Regions from separate parts of the Homo sapiens genome. Here regions 1, 2, 3 and 4 are each linked to region 5. The links come from fine-mapping of genetic effects on gene expression. A gene starts in region 5. Each other region holds a variant in brackets. All regions are shown on one strand. Distances are from middle to middle.

What was found.
Region 1: its variant is fine-mapped to the expression of EPHB4 in blood mononuclear cells (TOPMed, PIP 0.99).
Region 2: its variant is fine-mapped to the expression of EPHB4 in monocytes after interferon gamma (Fairfax 2014, PIP 0.95).
Region 3: its variant is fine-mapped to the expression of EPHB4 in whole blood (INTERVAL, PIP above 0.99).
Region 4: its variant is fine-mapped to the expression of EPHB4 in whole blood (INTERVAL, PIP 0.96).

The regions. Positions count from the first base shown.
Region 1 is chr7:100,802,929-100,808,023 of GRCh38, forward strand. It overlaps EPHB4 (EPH receptor B4), which reads right to left. Exons shown (of 17, transcript NM_004444.5): 13 at 4,437-4,652; 14 at 3,492-3,641; 15 at 2,573-2,766; 16 at 2,238-2,393; 17 at 1-662. The coding sequence ends at 533. Among named protein-coding and RNA genes, the nearest start is that of EPHB4, 22 kb to the right of the region's middle. RefSeq lists enhancers at 1,799-2,514, 2,515-3,230, 3,151-4,350. The variant C/T (reference allele first, on the strand shown) is at 1,992.
Region 2 is chr7:100,698,015-100,703,114 of GRCh38, forward strand. No RefSeq gene overlaps it. Among named protein-coding and RNA genes, the nearest start is that of POP7, 5.6 kb to the right of the region's middle. The variant G/GA (reference allele first, on the strand shown) is at 2,527.
Region 3 is chr7:100,847,107-100,852,195 of GRCh38, forward strand. The region is part of intron 1 of SLC12A9-AS1 (SLC12A9 antisense RNA 1); the gene reads right to left. It also overlaps a transcript of SLC12A9 not described here. Among named protein-coding and RNA genes, the nearest start is that of SLC12A9-AS1, 3.0 kb to the right of the region's middle. RefSeq lists an enhancer at 4,824-5,023. The variant CTTTCTTTTT/C (reference allele first, on the strand shown) is at 3,149.
Region 4 is chr7:100,746,975-100,752,074 of GRCh38, forward strand. ZAN (zonadhesin) reads left to right here. Exons shown (of 48, transcript NM_003386.3): 9 at 576-667; 10 at 1,163-1,241; 11 at 1,350-1,496; 12 at 3,651-3,922; 13 at 4,208-4,292; 14 at 4,738-5,100. Among named protein-coding and RNA genes, the nearest start is that of ZAN, 16 kb to the left of the region's middle. The variant C/T (reference allele first, on the strand shown) is at 2,749.
Region 5 is chr7:100,824,576-100,829,660 of GRCh38, forward strand. EPHB4 (EPH receptor B4) reads right to left here and starts at 2,948. Exons shown (of 17, transcript NM_004444.5): 1 at 2,404-2,948. The coding sequence starts at 2,455. It also overlaps a transcript of SLC12A9 not described here. RefSeq lists enhancers at 2,952-3,747, 4,544-5,085.

The DNA of each region.
Region 1 (5,095 bases), 22 kb before region 5:
AAAAACAAAACTCAAAAACCTTCAATATGAAGGCAGCAGCTGGGGGAGGGGCATTTACAAGGGAAAAAAATGATTGAGTTTGGTGGTGACAGCAGCAAGTTGGGACTACAAACCCCAATGATTTTGTCACTGGGCCCTGACACCCCTTCTTGCCCCCTGGGACAGCCCCCCCACTCTGGAGCTGGCAAGGGAGTCACACTCTCTTTGGTCTGCGGGAACGCACCCATCAAGGTGAGGGGGGCACCTGGGGAGGCTGGGAGATGTTGGGCACTTCCTTTTCCTCTGGTCACACCCAGTCCTGAGGGAAAGGCGCCCTCACCCTTGGTCTGGAGTTCCCCGAGGTGGCTGGGGGGTGATTTTCCCCTCCTATTATGGCAGAACCCCCAAATCCTGTCTCTCCAAATTGCCAACTCCTCACCCCACGGGCTCAAAGTGCAATCCAGCGGGGCACAGGGCTGGGGGCCTCTGTGAGTCCCCACTCTGCCCCGGAAAATGGGGAGGCGGTGTCCCTGGGGTGGGGAGTTCCTGCAGGTCAGTACTGCGGGGCCGGTCCTCCTGTCCCACCCGGGGTTCCCGGCTTGGCCTGGGACTTCATGTGCTGGACACTGGCCAAGATTTTCTTCTGGTGTCCCGCCAGAGTGACTCCGATTCGGAGCAGGTCCCTGCAGAAGGAAAGGAGAGCTTGGTGAGACCCTAGGTTCCCTGTGGCCGCTCTCCTCTCTTGGCTCCTGAGACGGTCCTAGCCTCAGGATTGTAAGCCAATCAGAAAAGCCAGCGGGGGAGGGAGAACAGATGTCAACAGTTCCCGGGCAGTTTTTTTAAGAGCTGGGCAGCCATCCTTCTGTGCAACCGCAGAAGGGGGTAGGGCTGGAGGCCAGAGGCAGGGCCTTTGGCTTGGGTGCCAGGGAAGGAAAGAAAAGAGAGAAAAGCCCGCAAAATGAGACTGGGGGAAGAGGCTGCACAGATTGCCGTAGAGGGAAATGGAGTGTGAGAAAGAAAAGGCCGAAGTGGGAGAGGAAGAGCTGGGTGGAGAGGAAGAGGAGGTTGCTGATGGCTGGAGGCTGAGATAAGGGGAAAAAAGGGAGAGGAGGCCCCCTGGGTCAGAGAGAGGCTGGGAAGAATTAGGGAGGGATGTGCCCAGGCCCCGTGGGGCAGGGGCAGACTGGCCTGAGACCCTCTGGCTCTAGCCTCCTGAGTAGCTGGGACCACAGGCACGCACCACCATGCCCAGCTAATTTTTTTGTTTTTGTTTTGTAGAGATGGGGTTTTGCTATTTTGGCCAGGCTGCTCTCAAACTCCTGGGCTCAAGCAATCGGTCCACCTGAGCCTCCCAAAGTGCTGAGATTACAGGCGTGAGCCACCACCTGGCCTTCACATTTCTTTTTTTTTTTTTTTTTTTTTTTTGAGATGGAATTTCACTCTGTCATCCAGGCTGGAGTGCAGTGGTGCGATCTCGGCTCACTGCAACCTCCACCTCCCGGGTTCAAGCGATTCTCCTGCCTCAGCCTCCTCAGTAGCTGGTATTACAGGCACGCACCACCATGCCCAGCTAATTTTTGTATTTTTAGTAGACATAAGGTTTCACCAAGTTGTCCACAATGGTCTCGAACTCCTAACCTCAAGTGATCTGCCCACCTCGGCCTCCCAAAGTGCTGGCATTACAGGCATGAGCCACCATGCCCGGCCTTCAGATTTCTATTCCTTCTATTTCTGTTATTCAACCTGGGGTGAGAGGAGATCTTGGGAGAGGAACGGGAAGGCAGAAAGGGGGAGTAGCAGACAAAGGCCAAGTGGGGATACGCAGCCTTTGGGAGGCAAGGAATCATAAAACCATTTCACATAAAAGCTGAAGAGGATCTCCAAAACCTAGCCCAATCTTCTCCTTTTATGGTTGGAAAAAGAGAACCCGAGTTGACACATTGTTACCGTGAGAGCCGGGCCTGGAATGCAGATAGATGCACAAAGATAGCTAGAAGTGAGAGGCGGAAGCG[C/T]GATGGCCCAGGGCTGTGATGGCAGGAGGAGGTGAGGCGGGCAGGCTGGCCCCAAAGAGTCCTTGGGTCCTCAGCTCCATGGGGCTGTGACTGCTCCTCTGGGGCCCTTCTAGGCATGGCATGAGCGCAGTGCAAGAAGACAGCATTGGCACCCGAAGCTGACCCCAAAAGCCCCTGGAGACCCCGTGGGCCTGACTCCAGCTGCCCCGCTCTCCCAGCCCCACTCCAGCTCCTGCCACTGCTTACTCAGCAGAGATCTGGCTGACCAGCTCGAAGGAGCCAAAGCCAGCGGCTGCGAAACTTTCTTCGTATCTTCCCATTTTGATGGCCCGAAGCCACTCGCCCACAGAGCCAAAAGCTGAGTAGTGAGGCTGCCGCTGGTCCAGGAGAGGGTGTGAGGCCCTAGGGGGCAAGGATGGGGAGGAATGCTGAGTACCAGGCCCAGGTCCGGGGGAGGAGGTGGAACCCAGCCTTGCAGAGGCGGACAGAGGCCCTCCCACCCAACACCAATGAACGGACACTTCTGGGCAAGGAGTGGGGGCAGAGAGCGGGAAGGAGGGCCCATTCTCTGCAGTCCTCACCCGCCATTCTCCCGGGCCACGATTTTGAGGCTGGCGGGGTTCCGGATCATCTTGTCCAGGGCGCTGACCACCTGGGGGAAGCGGGGCCGGGCATTCCGGTCTTTCTGCCAACAGTCCAGCATGAGCTGGTGGAGGGAGGTGGGACAGTCTGGGGGCGGGGGCAGCCGGTAGTCCTGTTCAATGGCATTGATCACCTGGAAAGAGGGGAAGAAGCTCTGGGTGAGGCTGTCCAGGAAAAGCAAAGATGCTAACAGGCCCAGGAAATGGTGACTTGGAAGATGGTAGGATAGGAGCCACAGCCCCCCAAAAAATAACAGATCCAGGAATCCTCCTAGCCGGAGTTGAAGCTCTCTGTGGCTGAAGGCCCCAGCAGCTCTTGGGCTATGATACAGACATGTTACCTCTCAACCCTGCCCTCCATCTCTGCATCCTTCTGCGACCCAAATATGCTGTACCCAACTCTTTTATTTATTTATTAAGACAGAGTCTCGCTCAGTTGCCCAGGCTGGAAAGCAATGGCGTGATCTCAGCTCACTGCAACCTCTGTTCCTGGGTTCAAGCGATTATCCTGTCTCAGCCTCCTGAGTAGCTGGGATTACAGGCACCCGCCCATCATGCTGGGCTAATTTTTTGTATTTTTTTAGAGACGGGGTTTCACCATGTTGGCCAGGCTGGTCTTGAACTCCTAACCTTAGGTGATCTGCCCACCTTGGCCTCCCAAAGTGCTGGGATTACAGGCTTGAGCCACTAGGCCTGGCCCTGTATCTCAACTCTTTGATACAAAGATCAATTCTCCTTTTTGTCATCTCCATGGTCTCAAGAACCCAGCAGTGATGACTCTCTGGGAACCCACCCTTCACCCCAAATCCCAGGTGAGAGAACACTCGAGGAAAGCTTGGTAGGACCACGGGACACTTACGTCCTGATTGCTCATGTCCCAGTACGGCCTCTCCCCAAATGACATCACCTCCCACATCACAATCCCGTAACTCCAGGCATCACTGGCGGAAGTGAACTTCCGGAAGGCAATGGCCTCCGGGGCAGTCCATCGGATGGGAATCTTTCCTCCCTGCAGAAAAAGGAGAAAAGGTGAGCTGGGGGACTCACTGAGGGACTCACCAGACCCAGCACACTGCCCCCCAGTCCCCCACCTGCCTCTGCTTTTTCCCCCTAGCTCAGGCCCCAAGCCTCCTACTCTCCAACTCTGTTTGCCCAGGTTGGAGTGCAGTGGTGCGATCTTGGCTCACTGAAACTCCGCCTCCCGGGTTCAACTGGTTCTCCTACCTCAGCCTCCTGAGTAGCTCGGATTACAGGCGTGTACCACCACCCTCAGCTAATTTTGTATTTTTAGTAGCGACAGGGTTTTCCCATGTTGGCCAGGCTGGTCTCGAACTCCTGACCTCAGGCGATCCTCCTGCCTCAGCCTCCCAAAGTGCTGGATTTACAGGCGTGAGCCACCACACCTGGCCACTGTTCTTTTGAGACAGGGTCTTGCTCTGTCGCCCAGTCTGCAGTACAGTGGCACATTCATAGCTCACTGCAGCCTCCAACTCCTGGGCTTAAGCAATCCTCCTGCCTCAACCTCCCAAGTAGCTGGGACTACAGGTGCATGCCACTGCGCCTGGCTAATCTTTTAATTTTTTTGTAGAGATGGGGTCTTGCTATGTTGCCCAGGTTATCCAACTGTTATTTTCCTAGACATCTGGAAGTCGGCTTCCTGGAGCTGACTGTCCCCCCACCCACAGCCTGCTCCTGTATCCTCTCCCTGGAGCAGGGCTGCCAAACCCTCAGCCTCCCACCTTTCCAACCTGCCCTGCCCACCTGGCCCTAAGAAGCTCACACCCAGTATTACCCCCAGCATTACCAGGGAGCTCGTGTAGGTGGGATCGGAAGAGTTCTCCTCCAGGAATCGGGAAAGGCCAAAGTCAGACACTTTGCAGACGAGGTTGCTGTTGACTAGGATGTTGCGAGCAGCCAGGTCTCGGTGGACGTAGCTCATCTCGGCAAGGTACCGCATGCCCGAGGCGATGCCCCGCAGCATGCCCACGAGCTGGATGACTGTGAACTGTCCGTCGTTTAGCTGGAGAGCAGATAGGGTGGGGGCTTGGTGAGGACAGCCCACCCACCGTTCCCCCTCCCATCCACATCTTTTTTTTTTAGAGACAGGGTCTTGTTCTGTCGCCCAGGCTGGAGTGCAGTGGTGCCATCATAGCTCACTGCAGCCTCAACCTCCTGGGCTCAGGCAAGCCTCCTGAGTAGCTGGAACAATAGGCATGTGCCATTATGCCTGGATAATTTTTTAATTTTTAGTAGAGATAGGTTCCCACTATGTTGCCCAGGCTGGTCTTTAACTCCTGGCCTGAAGCGATCCTTCCGCCTGGGTCTCCCAAAGCACTGGGATTACAGATGTTGAGTCACCGTACCCAGCCTCCCGTCCACTTCCTAAACTGCATCTGTCACTTCCAGACCCACCTCACAACTCACCTGTAGGGCAAGCCCCCCAACTCCCTCAGGTGAGCCTTC
Region 2 (5,100 bases), 130 kb before region 5:
TTGAGACAGAGTCTTGCTGTGTTGCTCAGGCTGGAGTGCAGTGGTGCAACCTCCGCTCCTCCGGGTTCAAGCGTCTTGTATTTTTAGTAGAGATGGGTTTTGCCATGTTGGTCAGGCTGATCTCAAACTCCTGACCTCAGGTGATCTGCCTGCCTCAGCCTTCCAAAGTGCTGAGATTACAGGCGTGAACCACCGTTCCTGGCCCTTTTTCTTTCTTTCTTTTCTTTGAAACGGAGTCTCCCTCTGATGCCCAGGCTGTAGTGCAGTGGCACGATCTTGGCTCACTGCAAGCTCCGCCTCCCGGGTTCATGCCATTCTTCTGCCTCAGCCTCCCGAGTAGCTGGGACTACAGGCACCCACCACCACGCCTGGCCAATTTTTTGTATTTCTAGTAGAGACGGGGTTTCACCGTGTTAGCCAGGATGGTCTCGATCCCCTGACCTCGTGATCCACCTGCCTTGGCCTCTTAAAGTGCTGGAATTACAGGCATGAGCCACCACGCCCGCCCCGCCCCCACTTTTTTTTTTTTAATGGCAGATTCCTCTTCAGTGTTTTCCTTTGATGAAATGTAAGGAGAGGGCTGGATGCGGTGGCTCACGCCTGTAATCCCAGCACTTTGGGAGACCGAGGCAGGTGGATCATGAGCTCAGGAGTTCAAGACCAGCCTGGCCAACATGGTGAAACCCCCGTCTCTACTAAAAATACAAAAATTAGCCTGCGTGGTGGCAGGCGCCTGTAATCCCAGCTACTCGGGAGGCTGAGGCAGGAGAATCACTTGAACCTTGGAGGTGGAGGTTGCAGTGAGCTGAGATTGGGCCACTGCACTCCAGCCTGAGAGACAGGGCGAGACCCCGTCTCAAAAAAAAAAGAAATGCATGCAAGGAGATAAGGACTGTCTTGTTGTCAGATCAGTTTATTGTCAAATCGGTTTATTACAGAGCTTGTCTTCATCCACCTAAATTGCGAGCCTTGATATTTATGTGGATATCAGAGTTTGCAAAACATATTTTAGGTACCATGGAAAGACACATGACCTGAGTAATGGAGTGATAGCTCATAAACTGTGCTTATTGTTAATTATCAGACATAATGGGCGTTAAAATTAATTTACTGCATTCAGAATTACTTTTGGCCCTGCGCTAAGTTCTTTGCTCAACCAAACGTAACTGCGTTGTAAGTCACCAATGACTTCCACATTGTGAAATCTACTGGTCCATTATCTTACATGACCTGTTACCAGCCAGTGACATAGACGGTCACTCCCTCCAGAAATACCATCTTCACCTGGCTTTCTGGATGCTATATTCTGTTGGTTTTCCTCCCACCTCACTAGCTGCTATTTCTCAGATTTTACTGGTTCCTCCTCTTCTCCCCATCCTCCCAGGGCTCAGACCTCCGTATTGGAACAGGATATGGGTCGGGCACAGTGGCTCACATCTGTAATCCCAGCACTTTGGGAAAGGCTGAGGCGGGAGGATCGCTTGAGCCCAGGAGTTCAAGAGCAGCCTGCACAACATGACAAAACCCCATCTCTACAAAAAATACAAAAATTATCCGGGCGTGGCAGTGCACACATGTAGTCCCAGCTACTCAGGAGGCTGAGGTGGGAGGATTGCTTAAGCCAGGGAGGCGGAGGTTGCAGTAAGTGGAGATCAAGCCACTGCACTCCAGCCTGGGTGGCAGAGCCAGACCCTGTCTCAAAAAAAAGGGAACAGGATATAGGACCTACTGCTAAACATTCCTGTCTCTGCCTAATCATTACTTCCTCTTGGAAAACCTTGGATCCCTCAAGATGATATTGGCTGTCTCTCCTTGGGGATCCACCCAATCCTATTCATGTCCCCTCAGCACAGGTCATGCGATCATGCTCACCTTGTCTTGCACACTACAATATGAGCAGTTCAGCACAGTATTATGTAATATAACTGGTATGTTCGCAGCCTAACAGGTCACCTTGATCCATCCCTTATAGCTGTGTAATATTCCATGGGATGGATGTGCCATAGATTGTTTACCATGCACTGATCAAAAGTTATCCGGAGGTCGGTGGCTCATACCTGCAATCCCAGCGCTTTGGGAGGGTGAGGCAGGAGGATTGCTTAAGTACAGGAGGTCAAGACCAGCCTGGGCAACATAGGGAGACCCCCATCTCTACATAATAAATTAATATGAAAAGAAAGCCATCTGGGTTGCTTCCCGTTGGGCTATTACAAATAAAAATGCTATGGACGGGCTGGGCACGGTGGCTCACGCCTGTAATTCTAGCACTTTGGGAGGCTGAGGCAGGTGGATCACAGGTCAGAAGTTCAAGACCAGCCTGGCCAAGATAGTGAAACCCCGTCTCTACTAAAAATACAAAAAAATGTAGCTGAGCGTGGTGGCATGCATGTGTAATCCCAGCTACTCGGGAGGCTGAGGCAGGAGAATTGCTTAAATCTGGGAGGCAGCAGTTGCAGTGAGCTGAGATTGCACCAGTGCACTCCAGCCTGAGTGACAGATTAAGACTCCATCTCAAAAAAAAAAAAA[G/GA]AAAAAAAAAATGCTATGGATGTTCATGTACAGATTTTTAAATGCCAAGAAATGTTCTTGCTGGGTCATTTGGTAAGTGTACGTTTAATTTTAGAAGGAACTGCCAAACTGTTTTCTAGGATGGCTGTACGATTTTCCACTTCCACAAGCAGTGTATGTATGAGAGATCCAGTTTCCCTGCATTCTCATCCACACTTGGTATTGTTCGTATTTTGTATTTCAGCCATTTCAATACGTGTTATTGGTAGCTCGTCATGGTTTTCATGTGTATTTCCTTAATGGCTAGTGATATTGAACATCTTATGATGTGCTTATTTACCATTCTTATACTCTCTTTCACTGAAATGTCCGTTTAAGATTTGCCCATTTTCTTTTTCTTTTCTTTTTTTTTTTTTTTTGAGACAGTCTTGCTCTGTCGCCCAGGCTGGAGTACAATAGTGTGATCCTGGCTCACTGCAACCTCTGCCTTCCAAGTTTAAGCGATTTTCAAGTCTCAGCTTCCCGAGTAGATGGGATTAACAGGCGCCCGCCACCACGCCCAGCTAATTTTTGTATTTTTAGTGGAGACGGGGTTTCACCGTGTTGGCCAGGCTGGTCTCAAACTCCCAACTTCAGGTGATCCACCCACCTCAGCTTCCCAAAGTGCTGGGATTACAGGCAAGAGCCACCGCTTGCTTGCTTGCTTGCTTCCTTCCTTCCCTCCCTCCTTCCTTCCTTTTTTCTGTTTTTTCTTTCTCTCTTTCTCTCCTCTCTTCCTTCCTTCCTTCCCTTTTTCTTCCTTTCCTTCCTCTCTCTTTCTTTCTCAGACCCTCACTTTGTCACCCAGGCTGGAGTGCAGTGGTATGATCACAGTTCATTGCAGTGCTGTCCTCCTGGGCTCAAGCAATCCTCCTACCCCAGCCTCCTGAGTAGCTAGGACTGTAGGCACAGACCACCAGGCCTGGCTAATTTTTAAATTTTTTGTAGAGACAGGATCTCACCATGTTGCCCAGGCTGGATTTGCCCATTTTCTAATTGGGTTGTTCGGTTTCTACCTCTCGAGCTTAGAGAGTGCTTTATATATGCTGGAAACAAGTCCTTTGTTGGATATATGATTTGCAAATATTTTCTTCCAGTCTGTGGCTACTCTTTTCATCTTATTAATGTGATCTTTCACACAGCAAATGTTTAAACATTTTGATGAAGTCCAATTTATCATTTTTTTTTTTTGAGACGGAGTTTTACTCTTGGTGCCCAAGCTGGAGTGCAATGGCGCAATCTCAGCTCACTGCAACCTCCGCCTCCCGGATTCAAGCGATTCTCCTGCCTCAGCCTCCTGAGTAGCTGGGATAACAGGCGCATGCCACCACGCCCGGCTAATTTTTTGTATTTTTAGTAGAGACGGGGTTTCACCATGTTGGCCAGGCTGGTCTTGAACTCCTAACCTCAGGTGATCCACCCACCTCAGCTTCCCAAAGTGCTGGGATTACAGGCATAAGCCACCGTGCCCAGCCCAATTGTTTTTCTTTTATGGATTGTGCTTTTGGAGTCATGTCTAAGAACTCTTCGCCTTTAGCTGGGCATGGTGGCATGTGCCTGTAATCCCAGCTACTCAGGAGGCTAAGGCAGGAGAATCTCTTAAACCCGGGAGGCAGAGGTTGAAGTGAGCCGAGATCGCGCCACTGCACTCCAGCTTGGGCGACAGAGTGAGACTCCATCTCAAAAAAACAAACAAACAAAAAAACAAAACTCTTCACCTGACCCTACACCATGAAGTTTTTTCCTAAATCTACTATCCATTTTGTATTAACTTTTTGCATAGGGCTGAGGCTCATTTCTTTGCCTATTTGTCCAATTGTTTCACCACCACTTGAAAGGATCATCCTTTCCCCATTGAAACGCTTTTATACCTTTGTCAAAAACAAGTTGTTTGGCAGTGGCTCACGCCTGTAATCTCAGCACTTTGAGGGAGCTGAGGCAGGAGGATTGCTTGAGTCTAGGAGTTCGAGATCAGCCTGGTCAACGTAGTAAGACCTCGTCTCTACAAAAAATAAAACAAAATTAGCCGGGTATGGTGGCGCGTGCTGATAGTCCCAACTACTTGGGAGGCTGAGGCGGGAAGATGACTTGAGCCCATGAGGTTGAGGCTGCAGTGAGCCAAGATTGTGCCACTGCACTCCAAGCCTGGGTGACAAAGTGAGACACTGTCTTATAAACAAACAAAAAATTATTTTTTAAAGAGAGATAGTTGGCTGCACTTGTGTGAATCTATTTCTGAGCTCTCAATTCCATCTTATTGATTTTTGTGTCTATCCCACTGGGGAAACCATACTTTCTTGATAACTTTATTTATATAGTAAGTCTTAAAATCAGGTAGTGTGATTCCAACAACTTTTTCAAAGTGGTTTTAACTATTCTACTTCTTTTGCCTTTCCATATAAAGTTTAGAATAAACATCTATATTTAATACAAAAAAACTGCTGGGATTTTTGTAGGAATTGCATTACGCCTATAGATCAATTTGGGTTTTTGTTGTTGTTGTTTGAGACGGAGTTCGCTCTGTTGCCTAGGCTGGAATGCAGTGGTGTGATCTTA
Region 3 (5,089 bases), 23 kb after region 5:
CGATGCCCCCGGCCGAATAAACCCCTTCCTTCTTTAACTCAGTGTCTGAGGAGTTTTGTCTGCGGCTCGTCCTGCTACATTAATGGAAATACAATGTTGGCCAGGCTGGTCCTAAACGCCTGACCTCAAGTGATCCACCCGCCTTGGCCTCCCCAAATGGTGGGAGTACAGGCGTGAGCCACCGCGCCCAGCCGGGAGATGCTGTTAATATTGAAGTCAAGGCATCAGGCATACAGCAGGACTGTAGTTGGTGAGTCAGGCCATCATATTTACAGATGTGGCCTTTGGCTTTTGCTTTGAGGAGAAAGGCATGTCATTGGAGAATTATGAAAGGTGGCACCCATCGGGAATGGATGTTTACCTAAACAGCACCCCTCTAGCTGCTCAGCTGAGAATAGATTTTGGGACAAGTGCAGAAGTGGGAAAACCAGTTAGGAGGCTATTGTGAAAGCGGAAGAGGTGATGGTGGCTTGGACTTGGGTGGTAAAATGTGGTTGCAGACTGGTTATAACTTGAAAGTGGAGGCCAAAGGAATTGTCTATGGTGTGGATGTTGGATGTGAGAGTATTCCGGTGTAACCCCAGGTTTCCGGCCTGAGAGGACCACAGGAGGAGCAGGTGGTGGGAGTTTGAGTATTTAGTTTTGGACATACCAAGCTTGAGTTGCCCATTTGATGTCCAAGCAGAGATGGTAGTAGAGCCGGGTGCCATGGCTCACGCCTGTAATCCTAACACTGTGGGAGGCCAAGGTGGGCGGATCACGTGAGGTCAGGAGTTCAAGACCAGCCTGGCCAACATGGCGAAACCCCATCACTACTAAAAATACAAAAATGAGCCAGGCATGGTGGCACGTGCCTGTAATCCCAGCTACTTGAGAGGCGGAGGCAGGAGAATCGCTTGAACCCGGGAGGTGGAAGTTGCAGTGAGCAGAGCTCTCACCACTGCACTGCAGCCTGGGCGACAGAGTGACTCCATCTCAAAAAAAAAAAAAAAAAAAAAAAAATAGAAAAAGATGGTAGTAGATTGTTGGCTATACAGCCTGAAGTTCAGAGTAGAGGTCTGGGCTAGAGGTACACCCTTGGAGGCACTATCATATAGATGGTATTAAAACAGATTGGGCCGGGTGCGGTGGCTCATGTCTGTAATCCCAGCATTTTGGGAGGCTGAGGTGGGAAGATTACTTGAGCCCAACAGTTCAAGACCAGCCTGGGCAACATAGTGAGAACCTGTCTCTACAAAATATAAAAAATTAGCCAGGCATGGGTGCATGTGCCTATAGCTACTCAGGAGGCTGAGGCAGGAGGATTGCTTGAGCCTGGGAGATAGAGGTTGCTGTGAGCTATGATGGTGCCACTGTACTCCAGCCTAGGCGACAGAGTGAGACCAAGTCTCAAAAATAAATAAATAAATAAATAAATAAATAATAAATAAATACAGAAAAAATAGAACTATGAGACTGGATGAGATCGTGAAGGGACTGGGTATAAATGTTGAAAAGAGGTTGGGCGCAGTGGTTCACGCCTGTAATTCCAGCACTTTGGGAGGCCAAGGCGGGCGGATCACGAGGTCAGGAGATCGAGACCATTCTGGCTAACACGGTGAAACCCCGTCTCCACTAAAAATACAAAAAATTAGCCGTGCGTGGTGGCGGGAGCCTGTAGTCCCAGCTACTTGGGAGGCTGAGGCAGGAGAATCGCTTCAACCTGGGAGGCAGAGCTTGCAGTGAGCCGAGATCGTGCCACTGCACTCCAGCCTGGGTGACAGAGCTAGACTCCATCTCAAAAAAAAGGAAAGAAAGAAAGAAAAGAAAGAAAGAAAGAAAGAAAGAAAGAGCTAGGATAGACAACTAATATAAGGAGAGTTTTTTTGTTTGGTTAGTTTTTTGTTTTTTTTTTTTTGAGATGGACTCTTGCTCTGTCGCCTAGGTGGGAGTGCCTGAACCTCCCGAGTAGCTGGAATTACAGGCGTGTACCACCAGGCCCAGCTAATTTTTGTATTTTTAGTAGAGATGGGGTTTCACCATGATGGCCAGGCTGGTCTTGAACTCCTGACCTCAAGTGATCCTCCTGCTTCGGCCTCCCAAAGTGCTGGGATTACAGGTGTGAGCCACCGTGCCCAGCCTTCACTTCCCTTCTTACCTAGCTTAAATGTCTTTTTTAAGTGGGGTCTTGCTCTGTCAACCAGGTTGGAGTGCAGTGGTGCGATCACAGCTCACTGCACCCTCAACCTCCCAGATTCACTCTAAACTGGGCTAGGCAGGCCTGGCAAGGCAGTGGGATGTGGAGGGAGTGGAACACAACATTGAGACCCAGTCAAGAAGAGGACCCAGGGCGGGTGCGGTGGCTCACACCTGTAATCCCAGCACTTTGGGAGGCTGAGGTGGGTGGATCAACTGAGGGCAGCAGTTTGAGACCAGCCTGGAGAACATGGTGAAACCCTGTCTCTGCTAAAAATACAAAAACTAGCCAGGCATGGTGGCAGACACCTGTCATCCCAGCTACTCCAAGGCTGAGGCAGGAGAATCAGTTGAACCTGGGATGCGGAGGGTGCAGTGAGCTGAGATCGCGCCACTGCCCTACAGCCTTGGGCAACAGACGGAGACTCTGTCTAAAAAAAAAAAAAGAGGACCCAGAGAAGACTAAAATTTAGTCAAGGAGAAAGTCTCTGTCAGGCCTGAGCCCAACAGTTCTCTACCTCACTGGATCCCGAGTTCATCCATCCTACCCTCTTTCTACTGTGCCCCTTCTCTCTCTCCCCAACATCTTCCCTTCCCTTTTTTTTTTTTGAGTCAGAGTCTCGCTCTGTCACCCAGGCTGGAGTACAATGGTGTGATCTTGGCTCACTGCAACCTCTGCATCCCAGGTTCAAGTGATTCTCCCACGTCAGCCTCCCGAGTGGCTGGGACTACGGTTGCCTGCCACCACGCCCGGCTAATTTTTGTATTTTTAGTAGAGACAGGGTTTCCCCATTTTGGCCAGGCTGGTCTTGAACTCCTGACCTTAAGTGATCTGCCTGCCTTGGCCTCCCAAAGTGCTGGGATTACAGGCGTGAGCCACAATGCCCAGCCTCCTTCTTTTCCCTCCCTCCCTTCTTTCCTTCCCTCCCTCCCTCCCTTCTTTCCTTCCTTCATTCCTTCCTTCCTTTTCTTT[CTTTCTTTTT/C]TTTTTTTTTTATTGAGATAAGGTCTTGCTCTATCACCCAGATGGGTGTGCAGCCATAGGATCATAGCTCACCACAGCCTCCATCCTCCCACCTCAGCCTCCTGAGTAGCTGGGACTACAGGTATGGGCCACCATGCCCAGCTGATTTTAAAAAAAAATTAGAGACAGTGTCTTCTGTGTTGCCCAGGCTGGTCTTGAACTCCTGGCCTCAAATGACCCTTCTGCCTCAGCCTCCCAAAGTACTGGGATTACAGGTGCAAGCTACTACACCTTGCCACAGTCTTTTTTGTTGTTTGAGACAGGGTCTCACTCTGTCACCCAGGCTGGAGTGCACTGGCACTATCATAGCTCACTCAACCTCCTTGGCTCATGGGATCTTCCAGTTTCAGCCTCCTGAGTAGCTGAGACAACAGGCGTGCACCACCATGCCTGGTTAATTTTCTTTTCTTCTTCTTCTTCTTTTTTTTTTTTTTGAGATGGAGTTTTGCTCTTGTTGCCCAGGCTGGAGTGTAATGGCGAGATCTCAGCTCACCACAACCTCCGCCTCCCGTGTTCAAGCTATTCTCCTGCCTCAGCCTCCCAAGTAGCTGGGATTACAGGTGCGTGCCACCACGCCCAACTAATTTTTGTATTTTTAGTAGAGATGGGGTATCACCATGTTGGCCAGGATGGTCACAATCTCCTGACCTCGTGATCCACCCACCTCGGCCTCCCAAAGTGCTGGGATTACAGGCGTGAGCCACCGTGCCTGGCCCAATTTTTAAAAAAAATTTTGTAGAGATGAGGTCCCACTTTATTGCCCAGGCTGGTCTGGAGCTCTTGGGCTCAAGTGATCCTCCTGCCTCAGCCTTCCAAAGTCCTGAGATTACAGGCGTGACCCACTGCACCCAGCTCCTTGCCACCTTCTTGGTGCCAATCAAAATAGTCCTGAATAAAGTCTGACTTACTGTTTTAACAAGAGTCAGATTTTTTTCTTTAATAAGCGCAGTAGAAGAGGTGAACTGAAGAGGAGGGGCTGCAGTCATTGATGAAGACAAGGTCCAAGGCAAAACCACAGACTAACAAGGTAAGGTGGAGGTTGAGATTTATGGAAGCAGAGTTCAGTGACGGACAGGCCAGGGTATGCCAAGGGAGTGCTTATAACTAACTGACCCTGAAAAAGTTTTTTTTTTTTTTTTGAGACAGAGTCTCGTTCTGTTGCCCTGGCTGGAGTGCAGTGGTGCGATCTCAGCTCACTGCAACCTCTGCCTCCCAGGTTCAAGCGATCCTCCTGCCTCAGCCTCCTAAGTAGCTGGGACTGCAGGCGCATGCTTGAGTTCAGGAGTTCCAGAGAGGCCTGGGCAACATGGCGAAACCCGGTCTCTACAAAATATTTAAAAATTAGCCAGGCGTGGTGTGTGCCTGTGTAGTTCCAGGCACTGCGGAGGCTGAGGCAGGAGGATGCTTGAGCCGGAAATGCAGAGGTTGTAGTGACACGAGATCGCGCCACTGCACTCCAGCCTGTGTAATAGTTCCTGGATCAAAAAAAAAAAAAAAAAAAAAAGGAAATGTATCTGAAACTTTCCAAGCTCCAATTTCCTAATCTGAAAAATTGAAATAGCGGTACCTACCTCACAGAGTGGCTAATTTAATGCAGTGCTATTTGCAAGGGATAATTTATCAAACCTTTAGGCGTTGTTCTAAAGTGCCCATTAAATGCTCACTGAACTCACAGCCTTAGGAGGGAGGTTCGAGTTTATGCCCATTTTACATATGAGGACGCGTTGGCAGGTGGTACTGCTGTTCATGGGATCTGTAAAGAGTGAAGAAGGAGTCTCAGCTCTCAGTAGAGTTCATAGGCTCTAGGATTTCTGCTGGAAGTGAGAACACTGCAGGGAGGCAAGAAAGCGGGCATCAGACGGTGCAAAGCGACCCTGGGCCCAGATCGGCGGC
Region 4 (5,100 bases), 78 kb before region 5:
ACGGGAGGCTGAGGCAGGAGAATCGCTTGAACCCGGGAGGCGGAGGTTGCAGTGAGCCGAGATCGCGCCACTGCACTCCGGCCTGGTGACAGAGCAAGACTCCCTCTCAAATAAAAAAGAAAGTTGTGCTGGCCTGGCACAGTGGCTTATGCTTGTAATCCTAGCACGTTGGGAGGGTGAGGCTGGTGGATCACCTGAGGTCAGGAGTTCGAGACCAGCCTGGCCAACATAGAGAAACCTTGTCTCTACTAAAAATACAAAAATTAGCCAGGTGTGGTGGCACACGCCTGTAATCTCAGCTACTCAAGAGGCTGAGGCAGGAGAATCGCTTGAACCTGGGAGACAGAAGTTGCAGTGAGCCAAGATAGTGCCACTGCACTCCAGCCTGGGCAACAGAGCAATACTCCATCTCAAAAAAAAATAATGAATAAATAAAATAAAAAAGAAGATTGTGCTTTCATTTGGTGGTAATCGTCCCCAGCTATGCCCTCTGCTCCTCATCCTCCTAGGTATAGTTCAAAGTCGTTTCCCAGTCCCCTTAAGCTCACTTCTCCTTCCAATTCCTTTCACTGCAGGGAGTATCCGGAAACACACTCTCTTCTCAGGACAACCTGGGCCCAACTGGCAGGCTGTTTCTGTCAATTACACAGCCGTGGGACGGATACAGGTACAGAGAAGCAAGGGGTCAGGTCCTTGCACATGGTAGGCACACCCAATGTTGAAATAAATTGAGGGGCCTGGTGCTGTGGCTCATGCCTGTATTCCCAATACTTTGGGAGGCTGAGGAGGGAGGATCGCTTCAGGACAGGAGTTCAAGACCAGCCTGGGCAACATAGAAAGACCCCATCTCTACAAAAAAATACAAAAATTAGGCGGGCACAGTGATGTGTGCCTGTAGTCCCAGCTACTAGGGAGCCTGAGGTGGGAGGATCACTTGAGCCCTGGAGGTCAAGGCTGCAGTGAGCTATGATCACACCACTGTACTCCAGCCTGGGCAATAGAGCAAGACTCTGAAAAAAAAAAAAAAAGAAAGAAAGAACTGAATTGAGGGTCTGGGCACAGGGAGTAGGGATTCTGGGTCCTGGAATGGAGTCGAGTTAGATCAGGGGCTTGGGGGTGTGGGCTGTGTGCTCACTCCTGCTCCATCTCCCTTTCTCTCCAGTTTGCCGTGGTAGGCGTTTTTGGAAAGACCCCAGAGCCAGCTGTGGCAGTTGATGCAACCAGCATTGCTCCTTGTGGGGGTGAGAGCAGGCCCTGAGAGGCCCGGATCTCTCAGAATCCGGGGTGGGCTGGGGGAGGGCTGGAGAGCGTCACTCAACTTGCTCAAATATCCTATTTTGATCCCCCAGAGGGTTTTCCTCAGTGTGACTTTGAAGACAACGCCCATCCCTTCTGTGACTGGGTCCAGACTTCCGGGGATGGTGGACACTGGGCCCTCGGACATAAAAATGGACCCGTCCATGGCATGGGCCCTGCGGGAGGTTTCCCTAATGCAGGTGAGGAGATTGAGGAGCGCTCACGCCAAGAAATCACTCAGTCTGCTCCCAGGTAGCAGGCTGGCTGCTGTGACTGATGGGAGACGTTGTTTCAGGCAGTGGGAAGATCAGTCCACAGGTGTTTTTTCGGAAGTTTCCATGGTACTGGAATTGTGGAGATAGCAGAGTAACTTAAAGATTCTCAGGGCTGGGGGGTCACTGAAATCCTGAGAAAACCCAGGCATCTCACTTCATGGAGCCCAAAGCTTCAAAACCCACCACCTCATTTTCAGTCTAGACGTTTATGAGTGGCTCATGCCTGCAATTCCAGCACTTTGAGAGGCCGAGACGGGAAGATTGCTTGAGCCCAGGAGTCTGAGCTCAGCCTGGGCAACATAGTGAGAACCCCATCTCTAGAAAAAAAAATTTTTTTTTAATTAGCTAGATGTGGTGGTGTGTGCTTGTGGTCCCACCTACTTGCGAGGCTGATGTGGGAGGATCGCTTCAGCTCAGAAGTCAAGGCTGCAGTGAGCTATGATTGAACCAGTGCACTCCAGCCTGGGCAACAGAGCAAGACCTTGTCTCTAAAAATTAAAAATAAAAAAATAGGCCAGGCATGGTGGCTCACGCCTTTAATTCCAGCACTTTGGGAGGCCGAGGCAGGTGGATCACTTGAGGTCAGGAGTTCGAGACCAGCTGGGCAACATAGTGAAACCCTGACTCCACTAAAAAAAATGTAAAAATTAGCCGGGAGTGGTGGCGTGCACCTGTAGTCCCAGCTACTCAGGAGGCTGAGGCAGGAGAACTGCCTGACCCCAGGAGGTGGAGACTGCAGTGAGCTGAGATCGCACCACTGCACTCCATCCGGGGCAACAGAGTAAGATTCTGTCTTAAAAATATATAAAAAGAGGCTGGGCGCAGTGGCTCACACCTGTAATCCCAGCACTTTGGGAGGCCAAGGAGGGCGGATCACAAGGTCAGGAGATCGAGACCATCCTGGCTAACACGGTGAAACCCCGTCCCTACTAAAAACACAAAAAATTAGCCAGGCATGGTGGTGGGCGCCTGTAGTCCCAGCTACTCGGGAGGCTGAGGCAGGAGAATGGCGTGAGCCCGGGAGGCAGAGCTTGCAGTGAGCCGAGATCACGCCATTGTACTCCAGCCTGGGTGACAGAGTGAGACTCCGTCTCAAAAAAAAAAAAATATATATATATATATATATATATACACACACACACATATATATACACACATATATATATACACACACACA[C/T]ATATATATATATAAAGAAATAATTTTTTAAAAAGACAATAATGAGGGTGGGGTGCAGTGGCTCACACCTGTAATCCCAATGCTTTGGGAGGCTGAGACGGGTGGATCACTTGAGGCCGAAAGTTCAAGACTAGCCTGGCCAACATGGTGAAACCCCACCTCTACTAAAAACACAAAAATTAGCCAGACATGGTGGTACACACCTGTAATCCCAGCTACTTGGGAGGCTGAGGCAGGACAATCGCTTGAACCTGGGAGGTGGAGGTTGTAGTGAGCTGAGATCGTGTCACTGCACTCCAGCCTGGGCAACAGAGCGAGACTCCATCTCAAAAAAACAACACACACACACACACACACACACACACACACACACACACGACATTAATGAATGTAATCTAGGTTGCTGGTTTGTTATTCCCTTTTTTTCTTTTTTGAGATGGAGTCTTGCTCTGTTGCCAGGCTGGAGTGCAGTGACGTGATCTTGGCTCACTGCAACCTCCACCTCCGGAGTTCAAGCAATTCTCCTGCCTCAGACTCCCGAGTAGCTGGGACTCCAGGCACGGGCCACCACGCCCAGCTAATTTTTGTATTTTTAGTGGAGACGGGGTTTCACCATGTTGGCCAGGATGGCCTTGATCTCTTGACCTCGTGATCCGCCAGCCTCGGCCTCCCAAAGTGCTGGGATTACAGGCATGAGCCACCGTGCCTGGCCGCTTTTCCCTTTCTTTGTGATCCCACCTTCTTTAGTTAGATGTCTAAAATGAGCAGAAAAAATAATGCTACGACCTGGGAAATTTGAGTGTTTGCTCAGATTCCCGTTCAGAAAGCAAAGCTTTGCTAAAGCAGCAGTTGGCATGTCCTGTGCAGGCTTCTTACCTTGCCTGTTCCCTTCCTTTGCCTAGGGGGTCACTATATCTACCTTGAGGCTGACGAGTTCTCCCAGGCAGGCCAGTCAGTCAGACTGGTGAGCCGGCCCTTCTGCGCCCCAGGTGACATCTGCGTGGAGTTCGCATACCACATGTATGGCCTTGGGGAGGGTACTATGCTCGAACTCCTCCTGGGAAGTCCTGCGGGGAGTCCCCCGATTCCTCTCTGGAAACGCGTGGGGTCTCAGCGCCCTTACTGGCAGAACACCTCCGTCACCGTCCCCTCAGGACACCAACAGCCCATGCAGGTGAGAGACGGAGGCGGGGGTCCTGTCTGTGTGAGGTGAGAGGGCCAATGCCTGGGATCTGGGGGCGCCACCAGTGCTGAAGAGGTGGAAAGCTGGAAAGAGAGCCGAGAAAAGGGGAACTTCGTGTTACAGAAAGTGAGAAAGGGGCCGGGATGGGGCTGGACTGTTGAGGCTGGAACAAGGCGACATTTTGGCAGAGAACAGATTCTATGCCCAGTGGAATCACAGAGTTGCTGGAGATTCATTTTTGTTTCTCTCTCCGTCTCTCTCCCTTGTCGCCTTTAGCTTATTTTCAAGGGCATCCAGGGAAGCAACACGGCCTCTGTGGTTGCTATGGGTTTCATCTTGATCAATCCTGGGACTTGTCCAGGTAAGACCAAAGCCCAGGCTCCAGGAAGGGGGCGGTGCCCTGAGGTTCCCTGGAGTTCTCTCTATGAACTGCTTAAAATGTGAGTCCTCCCTGGAGCCCGAATTCTCACCCAGCTGGCTTTGTTTTCCATCTTCAACACACCTCTCCTTCCCCTGCACTTCAAGATGTTTGCCTGGGTGAATGTGGCTTCGATACCATGGATTTTGGGGGCTGGATCCAGAACTCCTTCCTCTGCAGTCTTGAAGGCTGGACCCATATCCTATTCATTTCTGGCATAATATCTGACATATATTAGTGTTCGTTGAGTGGATGAAGGTTGGGGTTTGGGAGTAGAAAGAGAGGTGTGAATAAGCCACCCATGGGAGCCCACTCCAGTTAGATGGCAGTAAAGAGGGTGGTGGTATGGTTTTGACTAAACTCCAGGGATTCTTATTTTTCTTTGCAGTAAAAGTGCTACCAGAGCTTCCTCCCGTATCTCCAGTTTCTTCCACTGGCCCTTCTGAAACCACTGGCCTCACAGAAAACCCTACAATCTCCACCAAGAAACCTACAGTTTCCATAGAAAAACCCAGTGTCACCACAGAAAAGCCCACAGTCCCCAAAGAAAAGCCCACCATTCCCACAGAAAAACCCACCATCTCCACAGAAAAACCCACCATTCCTTCAGAAAAACCCAACATGCCCTCAGAAAAACCCACCATTCCCTCAGAAAAACCCACCATCCTCACAGAAAAACCCACCATTCCCTCAGAAAAACCCACCATTCCCTCAGAAAAACCCACCATTTCCACAGAAAAACCCACCGTCC
Region 5 (5,085 bases):
GGGTTAAAATGAGAGCTGCGCCCTGGTCCTGACCCCCACGAGCAGAGGCTGCTGGTGTGGGAGGGGAACCTCTTGTCTCAGCCTCCACGTTTCCTCCCCTAAGTCCCAGAATCAGCCTCTCTACCCCACAATTTCATTCCCTGTCCAAGACCCCTCTCTGCTTTCAGACCAAACACCCCGTCCTTCCCTCCTTGAAGGGAGCGCTCCGTGCCTGGGGCATAGCCCTGGCCCCCATCCCAGTACCTCCCTCCCCACGAGTGCCCTGATCAGGAAGCACTGGAGGTCGGGATGCTAGGGTTCCCAGGCTCCCGCCGAGGCCTCACATCTGGATTTGGTTATGGGAAGGCAGAGGGGAGGAGATTCTGGGGGGCGGTATGAATGGGAGGGGTGAACACACCTGGCTTGGCTCGGATCATCGGGGGAGGGGACAGGCACTGGAGGAAGGGGGGGGATTAGGAAAAACTGCACAGCCCCTGGCAGTGGAGAGTGGAGGAGGGAGGGTACAGGAATCCCCTCGGGGGCCGGCAATGTGGGGGGCATTGGGCGCTGGGAAGGGTGGAGAGGGGAGCCAGAACACCTGGCTCCCACCCCATGGGAGCTGCAGGAGAGAAGAGAAAGAGGGTGGGTGAGGCAGCCTCTTCCTGGGGACCAAATGATGTCCTCCAGCTAGGGGTCAGATGGGAAGCCAGCCAGCCTGAGGTGAGAGGCGCAAGGTCCCCATGGGTGGCAAGAGACAGCCCTGCTCACTGGGGACAGGATGCCCGGGTTCTGGGAAGGGGGTGGATAGAGGCTGCCGTCTCCACCCTCCATTGTTCCAGCCGGGATAGTGTTTTCCTGTCTCCAATTTACACACTGTCTCTGCCTCGGGCTGTCCGCAGCCCAGAGCAAGCGCAGGCTCCCTTTCTGCGTCCCAGCTCAGCTGCAGCCACGCTTTGATCTGTCAGTTCGCATGTCTCTCACCTATCTCTCCTCCACTCTCTGTCCACCTCCGTTTCTCTTTCTGACAGTCACTATCTCTCCTTCGCTTTCGGCCTCCACTTCTCGCTGTTCCTCGCGGCACAGGGCCTTGGATAAACTACTTAACCTTAACTAAGCCCCAGCCTCCTCATCTGAAAAATGGGGGCAATAATAGCACCACCCTTAGCGTTGCTGGATGGGTGAAATTAATATTTGTAAGGCGCTCAGCACAGGCCTGGTGCTTGGAAACACTCAGGTAATAGGTGTCACAATCACCATTTCCTCTTTGCGTCTTTCCTTCTCACCACACCTCGTCCTCGTGGTTTTTCCACCCCTTTGGCCTTCCTCTTCCCCTCGTTCATGGTTTTTGTTCCCCCTTCTCCGTTCTCTGAGCTGGGCAAGCCTCCCCTCACTCCCAACCCCACACCTAGCCTTTGATCCCCAGCCCAGGGCAGTCCTGCCCAGCCAGGGGGAGAGGGTTTTTCTAACGCCGCTGAATCCTTCCCTTTGGGAGTCCCTCATAGCCTACCGCCCCATAACCACTTTCATACCAGACAGAGAAAGGGGGGTGTTGGCAGCTCACTGAAAGGACATTAGGGACACAGGAGAGTTTCTAGGGCTCTTGGCTCCCCCTTTAGGGGACCAGGAGGGACAGCGATCCATGGCCAAAGAAATGCTTGGAGAGACCAGGAGGTGGGAGATAGACTGGGTTAGTTAGGGCGATGTGGGGGCTGTGTAGGTCAGTTTCTACCTGGGGGCTGTGTAGGTCAGTTTCTACCCGCTCCTAGGTCTCAAGGGAAGCCCGGGACTCACCTGGGGCCGGGGTCTAGACCGCATTTAAAGGGATGGGGTGCAGCCTGTAGAAACCAAGGAGCCACCCTATACCAGGGGCAGGAGCAGTGGGCGGGAGAGCGGTTTGGGGGTTTGCTGTGTGAATGCAAAGGAGGCCATCCTGTTGCAGGAGTGTGGAACTGGAGGATCAAGGTGTGATCGCTAAGGAATTGGCGCTGGGGGTCGTTTTAGGGCCTAGCACGAAAAGTTGTGCCTTGTCTGCTGTTGCTTCTCCAGAAACCTTCCCTCATGTACGGCGGGAGGTGGGACTGGGACAGAAACTTTGCAGATAGTTTTGAATAGTGGGGTAGGGAGGAAAGGAAAGGCAGCCAGGGGCGTATGTAATCAGCAGTGAGAGTTCGGGGAGCCCGGGCAGGGGAATGTCCCGGGTCGTAGCCAGACTCCATCTCTTTCCCAAACAAAAGAAAACTCCACTACCCGTCGGGCGCCTCTTCCCCGCCCCCCTCCCGTTCCAGCACTATCGGTCCGAAGTGTTTGGGACTGCAGTGCCCGGGTAGGGGTAGTCAGAGGCCGGCCCCTCCACTCCGAGGCCCAGATGTTGGGGGGGAGGTCCCAGGAGTGACGGGGTGCGCCCCCCCCCGCAAGGAAACTCACCTTCCAAAGCTGCGGCCAACGAAGCCCAGCAGAGCAGCACCCGGAGCTCCATGGCGCCGCCTCACTCGGGTAGGATCCGAACTGAGTTTGGGGGGCCCTCGCCCCCCCAGGTCTGACTCTCCCTGGGCGGGTGGACGCCGATACTCCGCGCGGGACTCCTCGTCGGGGCCCTCAGCGCGGGCCCATGCGAGCGTGCGGGGCACCGGGCGGCGGCGCCAAGTGTGGCCCCGCGTCTGTGCCGCGCGCGCGGGCGGCGGGCCCGGAGCGTGCTGGCAGTGGCCGCGCCGGGCGGGCGCGCAGCAAGACGTGGCTGGAGTTGGGGTCCCTCCGGGGCCTCGGGGTCCCGCCCCGGGTGGCGGGGGCTGAGCCGGCCGCTCGCGGTCTCCCCCCCTCCCTGGAGTGGCTCTGCTCGCGCCGCCGGGCCGAGTGCTCTCCTCGCGGGCGGGGATGGTGGGAGCCCGAGCGGGGACGGAGCGGGAGGGAGGGAGACTGCGGCGCGGAGCCGGGCGGGCCGGGCCGGGCAGGGGCTGAGCTGCGCTGGAACTGGGCCGGGCGGCGCCGGGCCCGGGAGGGAGGGGCGCGCGGGGGGCGGGGGCAGCTCTCCCAACGCGGGGGCTCCGCGAGTGAGCCCCGGGCGCGCTGATTGGAGCTCACGCTACTGAATAATTCATGAGGGAAGCGGAGAGGGGCACCGAGTGGAGCAGGTCGGGAAGTTGAGAGAAAGTTTGGAGAAGGGGGAGGGGCGGCGGGTGAGGAACCCCGGGACCGCCCAGATGTGCGCCGTGGCGGTGCGCGCTGTCCAGGACCGAGCATGTCGGGGCTGGGGCCCAGGGACCCCCGGGACAGGCCCGAACCCGGCTGGCACCAGGGAGCAGAGAAAACACACACCCAGCAGCAACACGGAGGGCCGCCCAGGCGTGCACGTAAATGTTCACCGCGCACACAAAGCCCGCTCTGACCTTGCTGCGGACTCTAGATGCCGCTCTTGGATGCGCCCACCACCCTCTAGTGGGCGCAGGGACTGCGTTTTGGGGGAAAAGGAAGGAAAAGGGAGTAGAAGCTTTGGAGAATTGACGGCCGCCCAGGGGGCCTCAAGGAGCAATCCCAGTTTGGATAGCCTTGCAGCGAACGTTCACACAGTCACCCCATAAACATTCAGTGTTGGGGACCTACTGTGCGCGCAACCAAGCCCTGAAAAATGTCCAGAGGAGGCGCGCACTAAGCTGCGCTAGGGAGTAGAGAAAAATCGAGGAAACAACGGTAAAGAAAAGGTGGGTGTGGCGGGCGCGGTGGCTCACGCCTGTAGTCCCAGCATTTTGGGAGGCAGAGGCAGGCGGATCATTTGAGGTCAGGAGTTCAAGACCAGCCTGGCCAACATGATGAAACCCCGTCTCTACTAAAAATACAAAAATTAGCTGGGCATGGTGGCGCGCGCCTGTAATCCTAGCTACTCGGGAGGCTGAGGCAGGAGAATTGCTTGAACCGGGACCTAGGAGGCGGAGGTTGCAGTGAGCTGGGAGCTGAGATCGCGCCACTGCACTCCAGCCTGGGCTACAGAGTGAGACGAAATCTCAAAAAAAAAAAAAAAAAAAAAAAAGGTGGGTGTGTCCGAGAGGGTGAGGGGTCCGGCTAGATCTCCAAATCGCCCTTCTCACTCTCACTCTCGTGTTTTGGGGGGGCTTCCCCGCCGCCCGCAGCCATGACCCCTGAGGCTGGGGCTGCGGCTGCGGCTGCTGTCTTTCCTGAGCTGTTTCCTGTCTGGCTCCTGGGGGCCCTCGGGATGGCTGGGAGGGGCCCTTCCTCTCACTGCCAACTCCCCTCACCCTCCCATCAGTTAGCGGGGAGGGTCCAGCACAGCCGTGCTCCTCCCACCAACCCCCTTCTACTTCAGGGAACTTAACAGTATGGGTTACTGGATAGATGGATTGGAGGGGGTGCTGCTCCAGGAGTCAGCCCCTCCAAGGGGCAGAAGGAAAGGACTTAGACTCCCACAGTAATTAGCGGGGACAGATTTTTTTTTTTTTTTTGAGACAGAGTCTCCCTCTATTTCCCAGGCTGGAGTGCAGTGGCGTGATCTGGGCTCACTGCAACCTCCGCCTCCCAGGTTCAAGCGATTCTCCTGCCTCAGCCTCCCGAGTAGCTGGGATTACAGGCACAGGGCACCAACCCCGGCTAGTTTTCGTATTTTTAGTAGAGACAGGGTTTCGCCATGTTGGCCAGGCTGGTCTCGAACTCCTGACCTAAAGTGATCCACCCACCTTGGCCTCCCAAAGTGCTGGGATTACAGACGTTAGCCACCGCGCCCAGCCGGAGGACAGAATCTTGAGGAGCCCAGCAAGAGAGACGTTGGAGCCCAGCAAGAGAGACGTTGGAGTCCAGGATGCTTGGGGGGCTGCCAAGCGCCCTTACGTCCCAGAAAGGACAGCCGGGCCTGTGATAACCTCTTGTCCCGGCTTACTTATCTTCCTGCTGCAAGAGGTGTTCCCCACACCCCTGCCCTTCCTTGCTGTTCTGCCTGGGTCCTGCGCCCGGGTTGGGGGGGGTGGGCCGGTCACCGAGGGCAGGAAACAGCCGGCTTCACTGGAGCCAGGCAGACCAGGCTGGAGCTGGGAATTCCCTCCTCCCTCCCCGATGCAGGCCCAGTCTCCCCTTCTCTTATTCAGCTTCTCCCTCGGGGTTCTC